Regions from separate parts of the Homo sapiens genome. Here region 1 is linked to region 2. The links come from fine-mapping of genetic effects on plasma protein levels. Region 2 holds a variant in brackets. A gene starts in the other region. All regions are shown on their forward strands.

The links. PIP is the chance, under the fine-mapping model, that this variant and not a neighbour inherited with it causes the effect. The UK Biobank Pharma Proteomics Project read protein levels with antibody pairs (Olink). The fine-mapping took linkage between variants from a reference panel, not from the people measured, so its PIPs are less certain.
Region 1: it holds the start of FRMD7, and the variant in region 2 is fine-mapped to the plasma level of the FRMD7 protein (UK Biobank, PIP 0.98).

What each region holds. Positions count from the first base shown.
Region 1 is chrX:132,119,516-132,128,372 of GRCh38, forward strand. It overlaps FRMD7 (FERM domain containing 7), which reads right to left and starts at 8,505. Exons shown (of 12, transcript NM_194277.3): 1 at 8,273-8,505. The coding sequence starts at 8,329. RefSeq lists an enhancer at 1-599.
Region 2 is chr22:42,832,172-42,841,030 of GRCh38, forward strand. It overlaps ARFGAP3 (ARF GTPase activating protein 3), which reads right to left. Exons shown (of 16, transcript NM_014570.5): 3 at 8,773-8,845; 4 at 3,191-3,322; 5 at 2,071-2,154. Among named protein-coding and RNA genes, the nearest start is that of ARFGAP3, 21 kb to the right of the region's middle. The variant T/C (reference allele first, on the strand shown) is at 5,005.

The sequences.
Region 1 (8,857 bases), not on the chromosome of region 2:
CATGCCTAAGTGCTTCCAGGGCCTGGGGTCAGCTCACCCAGCCAAACCTCCCCTTTCTGGCCCCACACCTTGGACCCAGAAGAGGAGGAAGTGGGTAAAGAGGCTGAGAAGGAATACAGAAAAAGGGGCTGAAATTAGATGATGTGGGGGTAATAATTGTAGCTTTTGCACAGCAGCTGTGTTTAGAACCAGGCAAGCTATATACATCAGAGAGTTCCGCAGCCCCCAGAAAAATGTTCCTCGGAACGCCTATCACCTTTCATTCTTCCTGAGCTTTGTAGCCTTCAGCAGGTCTTCTCAGTGGTGCCTTGCCCTAGCACCTCATTGGCCAGCTCGGCACTACCTCCTGGGGTGTAAATGAACTGTTAAGGGTGGTTCTCTCAGCAGTAGAACTGGTCTCACGGAATGTTTTTCCAGTTCTGACAGTCTGGCACAAAGCTGCTAAGAGGCACCTAGTATCACAAAAGCTAGGCACTGCTCCCTGCTGCTGGGCTGGCAGTCTCCAGGCTCTTTTAGGAAATGACTGGGCCAGTCCAGCCGCCTCCCAGATGATTTTCCCCCTCAGGCCATGCCCTTTTGACCCCAAGACAATTTGGACTCAGCTCAGTCAGTTTGAAGAATTTCTCCAAGTTGCAACTGACAGCTTCATTGTCCTAAGGCACAAATTAAAGTTAAGCCTTTATTAGAGTAATACATTTGTGTTTGTGACAGGTCAAAACAATGATGCAAATGCAGGGTATTTAAAAGCGGGAGAGAGAAACTCCTATAGAATTCAGAGGAATCATCTCTGGCGAGTCTAATTCGGAGGGAAGATCTGCAGATCGTTCTGGCTGCAGGGCAGTGAACCAACTTCTGCTACTCCTCCCCAGCACCAGGCAGCAGGCAGGCCTGCCCTGCGATGAAAGGTGAAGAGGCGGCAAGGCCCCGACTAACTGAAATTTTCCACAGAGATTCCCACGAGTGCAGACTTGAACAAACAGCCAAACGCCACCCACCTATAGCTCCAAAGCCAGTTCCCCAATCTCTTCCGCCATGGCCTCAAATGTTTTTGCGTTCGGGTTCCCTCCTCCTTTCAGCTGTGGGGATGGGAAGCCAAGGGGCAGGTAGGAGTGGGAGTGGGAAGGCTGGAGGCCCTGCCTTTGCTCTGAACTGGAGCAGGAAAGCAGCCTGGAAGCCATGTGACAGCAGGAGATGTGGGGCTCCCAGAGGGTGGGGCAGGCAGCACCCAAACCATGCTTGACCCACTGCTCAGCCTGGCCTGGGGCCAGAGAAAGCACAAGCACTTTTTTTCAGTTCAATTTATTCTCCAAAGCAACAAACCTCAGGATATGAACGACAGAGGAAGTTCAGTTTAAACAAAGGCATTCACCAAGCAGTATGGGTCCCCTGCAATGACAAATGAATCCCTGGCAAAGGGACAGCCAACATTGGCTAGATTGGAACGTTATGATTCCAGGATGATCTTTCTGACCTGGGTTTAGAAGCTCCTTCACTTGGCTTTCTTTGTACAGGCACGGGGTGGTGGTGAGCTGATCTGCTCAGTCTGTTGGTCAGTCTATCAACAAACATCGATTGATCCCACCTAGCATGGGGCAGGCTGTTTAGGCAGGCTGCTTGTGATGTATCTGCTAGAGGATACATCATAAAGTTCTGGAAAACCAGGAAGTTTCACTGCATATACAGAAATCACGCTTGAGTCAGAAGCCTACCATCTAATCAATGTCCAGACAGGATTTTGAAGCCAGACAAAGTGGGGCTTGAATCCCAGCTCACCTGTTAACTTAAATAGCCATATGACTTTGGGTAAGTCAACCTCTCTGTGCCTCAGTTCACATACTCATAAAATAGAGATAAACATAATATTTTAGGCCTAGTCAGCTTGGAGTATTACTGCTTGGACATAAGAAGCAGGACATGTGTTCACCATCTAAAATTGGAGTGAATTCCATGAGGCATGAGTGTAGCAAACACTTATATAGCACTTTCTAGTACTAGTCTGAGTGTTTTACATATATTAATTCATTTAACCTTTGTTAGGACCCTATGGAGCAGGTACTAATATTATCCCCATTTTATAGATTAAAAAAAAAAACCCAAGGCACAGAGAAGTTATATAAAAACCCTAGTCAGTGACACTTATTTGATGTGCATGAGACTTATGTAAGGTAGTGCATGGGAAATACATCTAGAAAATTGTTGATAAATGCTATTTGTGATTATTATTCAGTAATATTATTGTTATTATTATTAACTGTATTACCCTAACTGTGAATAATGACCATGGAACAATTTAGAATGTAGTAAAATGCAAAGGGTTTGGCTATTTCCATCTGCTTCCTTAAAGGAAGCCCTACATTATTTTAGGTAACTCTAGGGAGTTCTTATGGACCCTTCCAGGATTAATGACTCCAAAGGGAAGAGCAAATCTCTTGGGGCTGCTGAGTAAACAGAGGCCAAAGCATGCAAAAAGGCAGGGTAAATTAACCCTACAGGAAGCGCAGAAATGGGGGAGCACAGCTCTATTACCTGGAGGTGGGTTGCAAAATCAAGCATCATCAAAAGAAAGTCCAGTTGAAAGTGAAAGACTGTTCTTTGTTGGTTTGCAAAGTACAGAAATAAGGAGGTCTGTAAGCCAGGGAGAGGGGAATTAACAAATTTGAGCACCCGCTTTGTGTCAGGAACCTTATCCCTGATATCTCATTTATCATGACAATGATCTCATGAGGTAGATGCTAGGATCATCTCCACTTTAGTGATAAGGGCACATCCTCAGAGAGCTGAAGTGACCCACCTGAAGTCTCACACCTTCAAATTGTTGGGGTTTGGTCTAGAATTCAGGTCTGCCCTACTCCAGATGTATTTTTCCTTCCATAATCCCATCTATAAATCTCAAACAAAACCAATCATTATCCCTTCTAAACTTGCTCCTTCTATTCTGTTCTCTATCTTGGTGAATGGGGCCATCATCCCACCAGCCACTTAAGCTAGAAACTTGAAGGTCATTTAGATCCTTTCTCACATATCTCCCATATCCAAAAGTGTGGCATCAAATGGTTCTAGAAATTCTACCTCATTAGCATGTCTTTTATTCATCCTTCCTGTCTGTCTTCACCATTGACGAAGTTCAGAACCCTAGTAGGCTGCAATATCGATGTTTGGGCATATGTGTTTGGATATAGTTTGACCCTCTAAAATTGGATCCACTAAACTTGATGGTAACATTCAGATTCTACCTGGCATCTCTAGCACTTAGAACATATTTTTATTAAATATAGTCTGAATGAATAAATGCATAAATTAATGCATGATGAGCAGAGGCTAATGTCCCCACTTTTAAACCCTTCAGTGGTCTCTGCCACCTTCAGGATAAAGACCACACTTCTCACACTTCTTCACATATAGAATACATTGCCTGAAAGGTCTAGCTGCCAACCTCTTCTTCAACTTTGACCTCCAGTCACTGCCATTTTCCTTTCAATACTCCATTCTTCACTTAGATTGACCCTTTTGTTCTGTGAAAGGACCATGTTCTCTTGAATATTGGCCTTCGTTCTTCCCTTTGTGTAGATCACCATACTTCCCCCACAATCTACCTCTCGATCTTCACCTTCTTAACTCCTACTCAGCAACTTAAATGGTTTGTTCTTCTGGAAGTTTTTCCTGGCACCCCAAGTCTAGGATTTACAGTTGACAGAACTAAGGCTCAAATAGCCTAAGTGACTTACCCACGGCTCCACAGCTTGTCAGTGGCAGAGTCAAATCTATCCTGGTTTATCAGACTCCAAATATACATTACCTAATTTGTATTACTCCTCGCAACAACTCAGCAAGCTAAGGGGATAAGTGATTAGTCCAAGATTACATAGCTAAAGTGGTGGGTTTTTTGGTAGTTTTTGTAGTCCCAAATCCAGGTACCTTCTATTACACCAAAGCAATTTCATATCATTGAAGTTGGAAGAACTTTGCCTTATGAAGTGACAGAATCAGTTATCTATTTCACTGTTGACTAAACTACAAAAGATCCTTCATCATCGCAAATTTAAAAACCAACCCCTGGGCAAACATCCCAAGGGTAAATTCCACCACTAATAAATTTAAAAATCACTGTGCTTTGCTTTCCTACTTAACTTGAACAGTGTTCGGTCCTGGCACTGCCTCTCTGTCTCTTTCCAAAAATGAGGCCTAGTGGCCTTTATCATGGGCTCCCAAGGGAATCAGGTGAGCTAACTTACTATATTCTGTTACTGGGTACCCACTGCATGGCCAGTACAATCACTTAGCAATCAGGTAAATGTGAAAGTAGAGATGTTTTAACATCTCGTTTTGACTTTAGTCTCCAGAAACCATCAAAGTGAAACATCATTTTGGAAATTCAGAAATAACAGCTTTTACAAAGACAGAAATGCAGCAGGCAAAAAGGGATATCAGATAGAACTGTGTCAAATACGGTGATGGGATGACCATTTTGTACAACTCTCTATGTAACCTGAGATGAGCAAACAAGAGGTTGCTCTCCAAAGGCACTCATCACTACTACTGTGTGTGAGAGTGTGTGCACACATGCATGTGCATGTGTGTATATTGAAGAGATTGATAGTCAAGCTAGAAACTTGACCCTCTATTGTTTCTAATATCTCACAAAGCTTTAACTTTGGTCTTATCTTCCTTTTTTCCTTCAAGAAAAGTTCTAGTCTCCATGTTGAAGAAGCAAAACCAAATATACAATAAAACCTGCAATTAATTTGTAAATCATGACCTTATTCAATTTTTAGTCTCACTCACCCACTCCCATCATCATTCTAGAGAGCCTTCCTTGACAGTCTAAAGATAAGCTGTCCGTTGTAAGATCAGCCCTAAGAATAATGCTAATATTTGACAATGATCAGTTTATGAAATAAATATGAGGGCTTGAAAAGTAAGATGACATTTTCACTAAATTCATTTTCTTCATTGGATTGTACTTTAGTAGGCACATTCTAGCAATTGTGAAGTCCCATAACCTATCCTGCACCCCTAAACACTATTGGAAGTTCATGAAAGAAAAGGTTGACTAATATTTTCAGAGAATTTATCTATAAAATCAACACCAAGTGACTCAGAGCACAAATATGCAAAGAAACCTCAGGAAAACAAGATGTATTTGGGAGCAGCCACTCTTTCTAATAAACTAACTGAAAGTATTAACAAGTTAAAAACAGTAGGATGATCAGAAAGCGGAGTTGTCAATCATGCAATGACAGAAAAAGGAATAACCAAGGCCAAAATTGGTAGCATCCAGGCAGTATGTCCAGGCCAGAGTGTGCTCTTGCTCACGAACTTTACCTACCAATATAGCAGAGTCTACTGTTCCCAGAACTGGGCCTGGGACATATTAGGTCCTCAATAATAATTTGTTAACTAAATGAGTTAATTAATGAATACGTGACTAAAAGGTCTCAATGCCATGGCCTCTGTGGACACAGATGCATTACCAAGCCATCGAATATTAGGATCATATATCTAATTCTTCCAGATCTGGCTCTTCTGACATCATTTGGCATATAAATGATGAGAGGACCCCAGTGTCCCCAATCCCACTGTAAATGGTGACACTAGCATTCTAATTTTAAATGTCAGTCTCTGACTCCAGTTCTTGTGGAGTAGTGACAAAACAGGCTTCTTAGTCAGGAGGCCTGAGTTAGACCTTGGACACTGGCAAATTCAGGAAGATAATAGTACTGGGGGTGGAGAAAGGGTTCTGGATGTCAATGAGCTTTCTCCAGGTGACATTATTTTATCTGATCATGTGTCCTTTTTATATTTCTACCACTGCACTTTCTATAAAATCAACACCAATACCCAAGAGTCCACTATGTTCCCTTATGCAACCAATTATTTTCTTGAATCTTATCTTGAAGGACAATTTTCCCTGGTTATGATCCATGCCTCTTGAGATTTCAGTTTAGTATCAAAAGGTCCTCCATGTGGCCTTCCTCAGCTATCAATGGGTTCTCTTCATTATGGTTCCAAGCATTTCTTCATCAAATTTGGAATGTTAGTACTAATAAAATAGAGCATTCTTTAGGTTGCTTTTTTAAGTGTTTGAATAGGTGAAAAGATTCACACCATTGTCTCCCTGACCTTGAGGGAACACTGTCCCACATAATTCTTCAACCATGATTAAGAAAAGAAGGGTCTACTAACTGGTTCACAATAGTCATCAAAAGCTCACTGTGTGCCAAGTTCTATGCCTTGTGAGGTCATCAGAAAATAAATAATGTGCATCGGCAATACTGAAGGCTACTGACAGATGAGTCTACTGTTTACAATTGTATATGAAGGAGAGGGGAGAGTTCTGGATTGGAAGTCCAGCTCTGCAATTATATGCTGTGTGATTGTGCACACGTCACTTAAGTTCCCTGAGCCTCCATCTTTTAACTTACAAAATGGGAAAAGATCTTTTCCCTACCTTCACTCACAAGGCTGAATGGAAGATCAAATGAACTAATGGATGTGAAAGTGCTTTGTAAATTTTAAAGTGCTATCCACAGATGACTCACTACTGCTATCATCATCATCACCACCATTATCATCATCATCACTATCATCATCATCATCATCATCATCAATCTATTATTGTTAAGCAGAGAAGGTACTATTGGATGATTGAATGCTAACTTAAGCTTCTAACTCCTCTGGACAAAGCCACTCACAGTACTGCAGCCAATGCTATTGCCTCTCTGGGTAACACCATGGTTGCTACTTACAAAGCATTCTTCCACAGAGCAAAAGGGATCACATGCTTTGACACCTGAATTGCTGGGTATCAAATCTCTCCCATTATCTTTCCAAGGAACACAATGTGTTGCAGCTGGAAAGAGACAGTTTGACTTGAAGCCAAATCAAGTCTTCTAGTTGCTGGAAGTGGCTCTTCCGTAGGTGAATTTTGTGAAGATATGGTACTGTGTTCCTTACCCACCCTCCACCCCATTTAAATGGATCTGAATTAGACTGCACATTCAACAAACTCTTCTGTCACTTTTTGTCAAAGATTTCTCTTTGAGTTCCTTGAAATATCTATTAAAAACTTAGCCTAAAGCAATATCTTTTGAATACCCAGCTCACTAATTCAGGTACTGCAGCACTGTGAGCATACACCACCAGTCTGCAAATGGATAAACTACTCAAAAGATATTTTCCACCCCTTAAATATAGTTCCAAGAAAGAATAGGAAATGCCTCATACCTCTAATGGAAGCTATTTGCTACAAAAACAAATCATTCAGGTCCGTGGAACTAGAAATGCCTTTTGCGCATAAAACTGAAAGGAAGAGACAGCAAAACAGCAGATGAAGACATGAAGTCATCACTCACAAAGCACATGATTCAAATAAAAATAAAATACTCATTGGAAAAATGGGCTACCCACACACACAACATCATGGCTGAGCCACAGCAGTTGTCAGTTTATGTATAAAAGAAAAAAACCAACATTTTGTATGAATTTCAGAGAAAATAAACTATTTGTCTCTTGTTAGTGGCTAATGTAAATATCAGAGCAAATAGCATTTTTGGTTCCAATAAAAATGTAGAACTTTTCAAAATGCTCATACATAAATCCTGACATCAAAATGTACATATCTTAAGATGTTGGAACATGAGCACCAAATGATGTGCTTAATACATTTGTTCTTTCTTGAAGAGATGAGGTATAATTGTATGCAATCATCTTGTAGCTAGGAATTTATTAAGAACTCTGAACTATAAGTACTAAATCAAACTAAATAGTCTCTTATCCTATTTTTCTCTCTCATACTTGTCATTCCTTCCTGAAGTTCTCATTACAACTACATAATTCTACCCCTTATAACCCATAGGTTTTCTTCAGAAAAGGAGGATAGCTTCCCCCACTCCTTTCCCTCAGAACAACAGTTTTCTCCCCACAAATGCTCATGGGGTGAGACCCACAGACATAATTTCAATGAACAACAATACCTTATTGGGTAAAAGAACTAGTTTATTGCTGCTTTACTTTTTGCAAATAGTTATCCTGTCTTTAAAATTTGCTATTGTTGTCCCTTGAGAAAAGACAACTTGTTCTAAGAGAAAGGTTAATGGAAAAATATGAACTACATTGTGATGTTAAATACAGATTATTTTTCCAAAGCTAAAAATCACAGTCCTCCTTCATTCAGTCCTAAAGAAGACATAACATTGCTCTCTAATGGGCTGTTCACAAATGACAATTATTGAATGAATAATAAAGGAATAATAGCAATGTGATTTCCACTTACATCAACCACAAAAATCTTCTGGGAATCATCCAAAAACTGCACTTTTAAATGTAGCATTCTCAGCGAGGCCGTTGGGCTGCAAGCAGGCTCAGAGTGCTGTGGGTGCTTTCTCCAGGAATTTCACTCCCAGCTGGATGTGGTGCACTCGGGCCCCCCCACCCCCAGCCAGGCATTCCCACTGTCAGCGGGGCACACTTCCGTTTGCTTGAAGTAATGCACACCCAAGGGCATTTGTGCTGCCAAGTGCAGGGGATCAATAGCATCTGGGCAGTCTCCTGTTTGGTCAATATCAAATCTAACTGGACTTCCTCTAGCCTTCTTAAACTCAGCTCCTTTCTTCAAAGAAAAATATAAAGAAAGCAAGCATTTGTGGTCCCTGGGGATTTTCTTTATTTCACAAGGGCACAATTTGAAAACCCTAGATCAAGCTTTAATAAACTGAGAATAGCCATTCTCAAAAGTAAAAAGATTCAAGTTAATCTCAAATTGTACTAGAAATTTCATGGCCAAGCTAGGAAGCATCTATCTATCTATCTATCTATCTATCTATCTATCTATCTATCTATCTATGCTTATATATATCTA
Region 2 (8,859 bases):
AAAAAAACCCAAAAAACAAGCTTTAACAACCTGTGTACAACTTTACATAGTTTTAAATTGAAAATTAAGGAATAAGCTGGGCACAGTGGCTCACATCTGTAATCCCAGCATTTTGGGAGGCTGCGGCAGGCAGATCACCTGAGGTCAGGAGTTCGAGACCAGACTGGCCAATATGGTGAAACCCTGTCTCTACTAAAATTACAAAAAAAATTAGCCAGGCGTGGTGGTGTGGGCCTGTAATCCCAACTACTTGGGAGGCTGAGGCAGGAGAATCACCTGAACCTGGGAGGCAGAGGCTGCAGTGAGCCAAGATTGTGCCAGTGCACTCCAACGTGGGTGACAGAAGAGTAAGACTCCATCTCAAAAAAAAAAAAAACGAAAGAAAAAAAGAAAATTAAAGAATAGATTGAGCAAGAGTTCAACAAATCGTGCTCCTTACCCAGTGGGACTGGGAGGAGCTAGAGTAGCTGGCAGAACATATGATGGTCCAAGACAGAGGTAGGCACACGTTACCTTAAAGGGCTAAATAGTAGGCCCGGTGTGGTGGCTCATGCCTATAATCCCAGCACTTTAGGAGGCCGAAGCAGGTGGATCACCTGAGGTCAGGAGTTTGAGACAAGCCTGACCAACATGGCGAAACCCCGTCTCCACTAAAAATACAAAATTAGCCAGGTGTGGTGGCACATGCCTATAATCCCAGCTAGTTGGGAGGCTGAGGCAGGAGAATCGCTTGAACCCGGGAGGTGGATGTTGCAGTGAGCCGAGATCGCGCCATTGCGCTACAGCCTGGGAAACAAGAGGGAAAACTCCGTCTTTAAAAAAAAAAAAAAAGAAAGGAAGAAAGAAAAGAAAGGGCCAAATAGTAAATATTGTCGCCTTTTAGGCTTTACTTTCCCTAGATCTAAGTGATCTGAGGAGAGGCCACAGAAGTACTATGGATTGCTGTCACTGTTGCTATCAGGTCACAAAGATGAAGATAGTGATATTTAGAGCACTTACTGAAGGCTTACTTTGTGCCAGGTACTAAGTACTTTTACCTGCATTAACTCATCCAATAGCTTTGAGATAATACTACATAAACAGCAAAACTGGGGCACTGAGAATGAAACCCCTATTAAAAATGTTTTCATTTTTAGTCAGTTTCAGAGCTCTGAACTGAACTGTGGCACACTACTAGTAATAAATTCTCAGTTCTCCCTAGCAGCTAGATAAGACATGCAACTAAATTCCAGCTCATAGGACATAAGTAGAAGGGATGGGAGCTCCCTCCAGACTTTTTCTGTAAAAGAATAGGGCATCTGTGGTGGGGTATGGTGGCTCACACCTATAATCCCAGAACTTTGGGTGGCCAAGGCGGGGGTATCACCTGAGGTCAGGAGTTCGAGACCAGCCTAGCCAATATGGTGAAACCTCGTCTCTACTACAAATACAAAAATTAGCCAGGTGTGGTGGCGTGCACCTGTTGTCCCAGCTACTCGGGAGGCTGAGGCAAGAGAATCGCTTGAACCCAGGAGGCGGAGATTGCAGTGAGCCAAGATCACACCATTGCACTCCACCCTAGGTGACAAGAGCGAAACTCCATCTCAAAAAAAATATTAGCTGGGTGTGTTGGTGCGCACCTGTAGTCCCAGCTACTCGGGAGGCTGAGGCTGGAGAATCACTTGAACCCAGGGGGCAGAGGTTGTAATGAGCTGAGATCGTGCCACTGCACTCCAGCCTGGGAAACAGAGCCAGATTCAGTCCCCCCAAAAATAAATAAATAGAAGAATAGGGCATTAGCTCTCAAGGATGCTTGTCTTTTTCTCTTAATCTGGGAGAGTCTTAAACTGGAGCAGCTGCTTTAGACCCTGAGATGGAAGCCACATGTTGAGAACAGCAAAGTAAGTCCATCAGTCAATAGCAGATATCCTAACCTTGGAATTGTTGATAATGTCATTTCTCTCTTCAGTAGTTATGTTTCAGCACTTCTTGTTACAAGAGCTTAGCCTACATCCTAACATTTTAAATATGCACCTTTTGTTAACTGTCAGAGTAAGCACACTTTAAAATGATGTGAAGCATAATACATACCTCAGGAGAAACGTGAGAGGCAAAAAAATCTTCCTCCTTTGGTGGAGGGGACAAAGGTGGAACCACACAACTATCAAGCCACAGCTAGAACAAAAAAACAACACAGGGCTGAGCATTTCATCCGGCCTGTAAAGGATTTTATTTGATACCTTTCACTTCCCTTAGAGACCTGTTTCCTAAAGATTGGTGCTTTCCATTCTTATAAAATCAGTAACATCCCTACAGAGGACCTCTGCGTGCACTTTAGTAATCTATCATCCAGTAAATTTTGCTTCCAAACCTTGAGGAAGTCAAGGACCTCAAACACATAAACCATTTCTGAAAAGGAAAGATCAAAGACTTCATATCTAAATGCAGGTTCCAAATGATAATCAATCCTTGTTATTCATGGATTCCATATTTATGAATCTACCTACTTGCTAAAATTTACGTTTAACCCAAAATTAGTCCTCGTGGTGTTTTCAGTCATTTGGAGAATAGTGCAGCAAAAAATGAGTTGCCCAAGAAGCACATTCTCAGCTGAGGTAGAACAAGACACACTACTCTGCCTTCTTGTTTCAGTTCTCATAACAAATGTCCTTTCTGCAGTTTATTTTGTGCTATGTTCTTCATATTCCCATGCTTTTTATTGAGGATGTCATTTTTTAAGATGCCTCTCAAGTGCAGTACTGAAGGGCTATCTAATGTTCTGAAGCACATGAAGGCTGTGATGTGCCTCATGGAGAAAATTCAGGCATTAAATAAGCTTCATTCAGGGCTGAGTTATAGTCCTTGGCTGTGAGTTCAATATTCATGAGCCATCAATATATATTTAAAAAGGTGTCTTTAAATAGAAACACATGTTAAATAAGGTTATGTATTGATCAGTTGATGAAAATGAGACCAGAGCTTATAGGAACCTAATCCTGTATTTCTCCTAGGAGCAATGTTTTAGTATTCACTAATCCAGTACTCATGATGAATTTACAGAACATAACTACTTCAATAGTAAGAATCTACTGTACACTAATTCCTTGTAAGACAACTCAGGTAGAAAAGTTTTACTATTCAGGATAAAAATCACTTTTTCTATGAAGTGAACATGTATCTAAAGGAAACAATCCAGCCTCCAGTGACTTACATCAGTGCCATGCTTCCGTGTTGCTTGAGAGGCGAGCGATTTGATTTTCTCCCTATAGAGCTGAGCAGCACGACTGTTGTACTTGGCATTGGTGTCATTGGTGGAACACCCATGTTGATGAAAAAAGGAAGACTACAGAGAAAAGCATGCACATTAATATTTTCGTAAAACTACGTATGGCCAGGCGCAGTGGCTCATGCCTGTAATCCCAGCACTCTGGGAGGCCGAGGCAGGCAGATCACGAGGTCGGGAGATCAGTACCATCCTGGCTAACACGGTGAAACCTTGCCTTTACTAAAAATACAAAAAATTAGCCAGGCGTGGTGGCGGGCGCCTGTAATCCCAGCTACTTGGGAGGCTGAGGCAGGAGAATGGCGAACCTGGGAGGCGGAGCTTGCAGTGAGCTGAGATCGTGTCACTGCACTCCAGCCTGGGCAACAGAGCAAGACTCCATCTCAAAACAACAACAACAACAAAAACTAGCTATGAGACTTGCATTACAAAATGAAATAACTAGTCCTCATTTGTCCATTAAACCATCTCTGTCATTGTGAACTTTATTTGGGGAAAAGCTTTCTACTCAGGACTACTTTTAATTCACGAGCAATCCATTTCTTTCTTTTTTTTTTTTTTTTTTTTTTGAGAGAGTCTTGCTCTATTACCCAGGCTGCAATGCAGTGGCTCCATCTCGGTTCACTGCAAACTCCACCTCCTGGGCTCAAGTGATCCCACCACCTCAGCCTCCCAAATAGCTGGGACTACAGGTGTGTGCCACCACGCCTGGCTAATTTTTGTATTTTTTGTAGAGATGGGGTCTTGTTATGTTGCTAGTCTTGAACTCCTGAGCTCAAGGAATCCACTTGCCTTGGCCTCACAAAGTGCTGGATTACAGGCGTGAGCCACCGCTCCTGGCCCTTTTCTTTGTTTTTTGAGATGGTCTGACTCTGTCACCTAGGCTGGAGGGTAGTGTGGCATGATCATGGCTCACTGCAGCCTCCAACTCCTGGATTCAAGCAATCCTCTCACCGTGGCTTCCCAAAGTGCTGGGATTAGAAGTGTGAACCACTACACTTCGTCCACAATCAATCTCAAAATGGATTCCAGTAAATCAGAATTTTTGACAAATTAGTGAGGAGCTACATTAATGTTTACCTTGTTTAGCACTATTTTATCATTAACAGATACTACAATATAGGTAAGATGATAAAACAAGTATTTAAACAATTAAAAGAAACTGCTTTTACCCACTTCATGAGGATCCATGTATAGACATGAATTATAGAATTCATATCTTAATTAAAACAGGTCTTCTAAAAACCTATACGAGTGATCCTTTGATGAACCTAATTTAACTGATAATGATATTGGTCACCCACATGTTCCGGATCCTGTTGTGAGTGCTTCATGGGCATCATCTCATTCAACCCTCATAGCAACACTATCAGACAGTCACTACTGCTGTCTACACTTTACAGATGGGGAAAATGAAGCACAGAGAGGTTCAACAACATGCCCCAAGTCACATGGGTAGCAAGGGACAGAGTTAGGATTCAAATACAAAAAGGATGGTTCCAAGCACAGAACTCACAGCTCCACTGGCTAAACCGAATGACCACTCATCTGAGCCTTCCCTCCCCATGTCCCCCAACCCCTGATGGCTTGAGATGAGAAAGCTCCTTTCTGGAGTTTGGAGGGTGACTCTGCAACCTTGGGAAGGCTTAGAAATAAGAACAGGTAAGTCAAACCAACAGTGCTAAGTTTAGGAACAAGTTTGTGAACATCATGATAATGGGCAAAGGTTTCTAAAAAGATGC[T/C]TGAGGCTGGGCACAGTGGCTCATGCCTGTAATCCTAGCACTTTGGGAAGCCAAAGCAGGAGGATTGCTTGAGGCCAGGAATTCGAGACCAACCTGGGAACCAAAGTGAGACCACGCCTCTACAAAAAAACAGAAAATCAATAAAAAATTAATAAGAAACACTGGCTGGGCCCGGTGGCTCATGCCTGCAATCCCAGCATTTTGGGTGGCAGAGGTAGGCAGATCACTTGAGCCTAGGAGTTCGAGACCAGCCTGGCAACATGGCAAAACCCTGTCTCTACTAAAAATGTAAAAAACTTGTTGTGCGTGGTGGTACTTGCCTGTAGTCCCAGCTACTTGGGAGGCTGAGTGAGAGAATCACCTGAGCCCAGGAAGTTGAGGCTGCAGTGAGCTATGATTTTGCCACTGCACTCCAGCCTAGGCAATAGGAGTGAGACTCTATCTCAAAAAAAAAAAAAAAAAAACCAAAAAAAAGCCTTGAAACATCTAAGGCATACTTCTTTTTTTTTTTTTTTTTTTTTTGAGACGGTCTTGCTTGATTACCCAGGCTGGAGTGCAGTGGCACGGTGAACACTGCTCACTGTAGCGCCAACCCCCTGGATTCAAGTGATTCTTCTGCCTCAGACTCCCAAGTGGCTAGGACTACAGGCATGCACCACTATGCCTGGCTAATTTAAAATTTTTTTTTTGTAGACTTTGTTGTCCAGGCTGGTCTTGAACTCATGGGCTCAAGTGGTCCTCCTGCCTCGGCCTCCCAAAGTTCTGGGATTACAGGTAGGAGCAACCATGCCTGGCCAGGCATATATTTTTAATTAAGAGGGGCAAAAATTGTTTCTTGAAAAGTGAAAAAAAAATCTTAGTTATTACAATGGTTTATGGCCTTCCAAAGGTCACCTCTACCTGACAAAATTGTATTCCTTAGTATTTAATTTATCTCATTAGGGAAACATTGGATCCAATTTAAATGGAAAATTATCTAATTAATTGATTTTTATGCTTAGGGACAACGAAGAAAAAAGATTGAGAAACTAGCATTTTGGAAACTGCTATTTTAGACCTCTGACTTTAACTATTTAATTGATATATATATACACACACACATATATATATATATATTTTTTTTTTCTTTTTTTTTTTTCTGAGACAGGGTCTTGCTCTGTCACCCAGGCTGGAGTGTAATGGCATGATCACAGCTCAGTGCAGCCTTGAACTCCTGGGCTCAAGTGATCCTCCCACCTCAGCCTCCTGAGTAGCTGAGGCTATAGGCAGGTTCCACTATGCCTTGCTAATTTTTAAGTCTTTTGTACGATGAGGTCTCACTATGTTGCCCAGGCTGGTCTTACACTCCTGGACTCAAGTGATCCTCTCGCCTCAGCCTCCCGAAGTGTTGGGATTCCAGGCACGAGCCACCATGCCTGGCCATAATTTTTATTTGAAATGCATACAAATTTGATTTCTTATACTTTAGCATATAAGAAACGCCTAAAGGAATTCCATTTACTCCATCTACACCATTTTGGCCTGATAAATAGGTTACCAGTGCTGTGCAAGATTTGGCTGGCTAGATTTGTAAGGCTGCCAGTTCAGTGTTTGAGATAATCAAATATACTGAATTTGTAAATAAAGTTTAAAATGTTTGAAAATCCTTAATTAGGCCGGGCGCGGTGGCTCATGCCTGTAATCCCAGCACTCTGGGAGGCTGAGGCGGGCGGATCACAAGGTCAGGTGATCGAGACCATCCTAGCTAACATGGTGAAACCCCGTCTCTACTAAAAATACAAAAAATTAGCTGGGTGTGGTGGCGGGCGCCTGTAGTCCCAGCTACTCGGGAGGCTGAGGCAGAAGAATGGCATGAACCTGGGAGGCAGAGGTTGCAGAGAGCTGAGATTGGGCCACTGCACTCCAGCCTGGGTGACAGAGCAAGATTCCGTCTCAAAAAAAAAAAAAGAAAAAAAAAAAAAAAGAAAATCCTTACTTAGGTTTGTAAATGGGGTTAAGGAAATCAGTTCTTTAAAATTATAAATTAATTGAATATTTTAAGGTTATTTTTTCACAGAACTTAACACACAGTATTTATGTTTGTGTTTAGAAATTAACACACAATATTTGCTATATTTAAAGACATGAAGAATGGGTTTTTTGGTCGGGTGCTGTGGCTCATGCCTGTAATTCCAGCACTTTGAGAGGCCAAGGCAGGCAGATCACTTGAGGTCAGGAGTTTGAGACCAGCTCGGCCAACATGGTGAAACCTCGTCTCTACTAAAAATACCAAAAAATCCAGGCATGGTGACGTGCACCTGTAGTCCCAGCTACTCAGGAGGCTGAGGCAGGAGAATCTCTTGAACCCGGGAGGTGGAGGTTGCAGTGAGCTGAGATGGCGCCACTGCACTCCAGCCTGGGCAACAGAGCCAAACTCTGTCTCAAAAAAAAAAAAAAAAGAATGGGTTTTTTAATTTGTAGATTTAAGAAGTTAAATATTAATTTAAATACAAGCATTCCATCCTAACCACAAAAGTCACCCCAGTTATTAAAAAACTATTATCATAAAGAAGCCTCCAGTTTCTCTGTACCCTCACTTCCTGTTTTAATTTTCTTAAAGCACTTATCACTGCCTGTTATTTTCCTGTGAACATATTTCTTTGATTACTCTCTGACTGCCCCTGTCTATAAGAGGGGATCTTGATTATTTTTATTTATAATAAAATATCCCCTATAAGAGGGGATATTGGTTATTTTAATTTATTATTTTGATAATCTATCAACTCACTCTATCTATCACTGATCTCACTCTATCAACCAGGCTGGAGCACAATGGTGCGATCTCAGCTCACTGCAACCTCTACCTCCCAGGCTCAAGAGATCCTCCCACCTCAGCCTCCCGAGTAGCTGGGACTACAGGTATGCACCACCATGATTTGCTAATTTTTGCATTTTTTGCAGAAACGGAGTTTTGTCATGTTGTCCAGGTCAGTCTTACATTCATGGGCTCAAGGCGATCTGCCTGCCTCAGCCTCCCAAAGTTCTAGGATTACAAGCATGAGCCACCGTGCCCAGCTGGGGATCTTGTTTGTCTTGTCTGTCACTATATCCCCAGCAGCTAGCCAACGCTTCCTGTTTATTAGGTGTTTAACAGATTTTTGAATAAACAAGTCAACTGGGTCTGTCCAACTCCAAAACCCATCAGGCTCTCTGCTTCTTCTCATAGGGCCTCCCAAACTTTCAAGTATTGAACTCTTTTTGTTTGTTTGTTTGTTTTTTTGGGATGGAGTCTCGCTCTGTCACCCAGGCTGGAGTGCAGTGGTGTGATCTCGGCTCACTGCAACCTCTGCCTCCCAGGTTCATGCAACTCTCCCGCCTCAGCCTCCCGAGTAGCTGGGATTACAGGTGTGCACCACCATACCCAGCTAATTTTTGTTATTATTATTTTTTTTTTAGTAGAGATGGGGTTCCACCATGTTGGCCAGGCTGGTCTCGAACTCTTGACCTCAAGTGATCCGCCCGCCTCAGCCTCCCAAAGTGTTGGGATTACAGGCGTGAGACACCACACCTGACTTGTTTGTTTTTTATAAACAGAGGGTCTTGCCATGTTGCCCAGGGTGGTCTTGAACTCCTGGGCTCCAGTGATCCTCCCAAACGCCTGTAATTTCAGCCTCCCAAATGGCTGAGATTACAGGCATGAGCCACTGCACCTAGCCTGAGCTTCTTTACTATTATAGCATAACAAATATTTAAACAAGAAGGAAAATGACGAGTTTGAGATGAACTTACTGCACTAGCGTTTCCTCCGACTTGCATGCATCGCAACTGAAACCATGACCAGTTGGAATCCAACTCTGTAGATCTAAATGGAAAGAA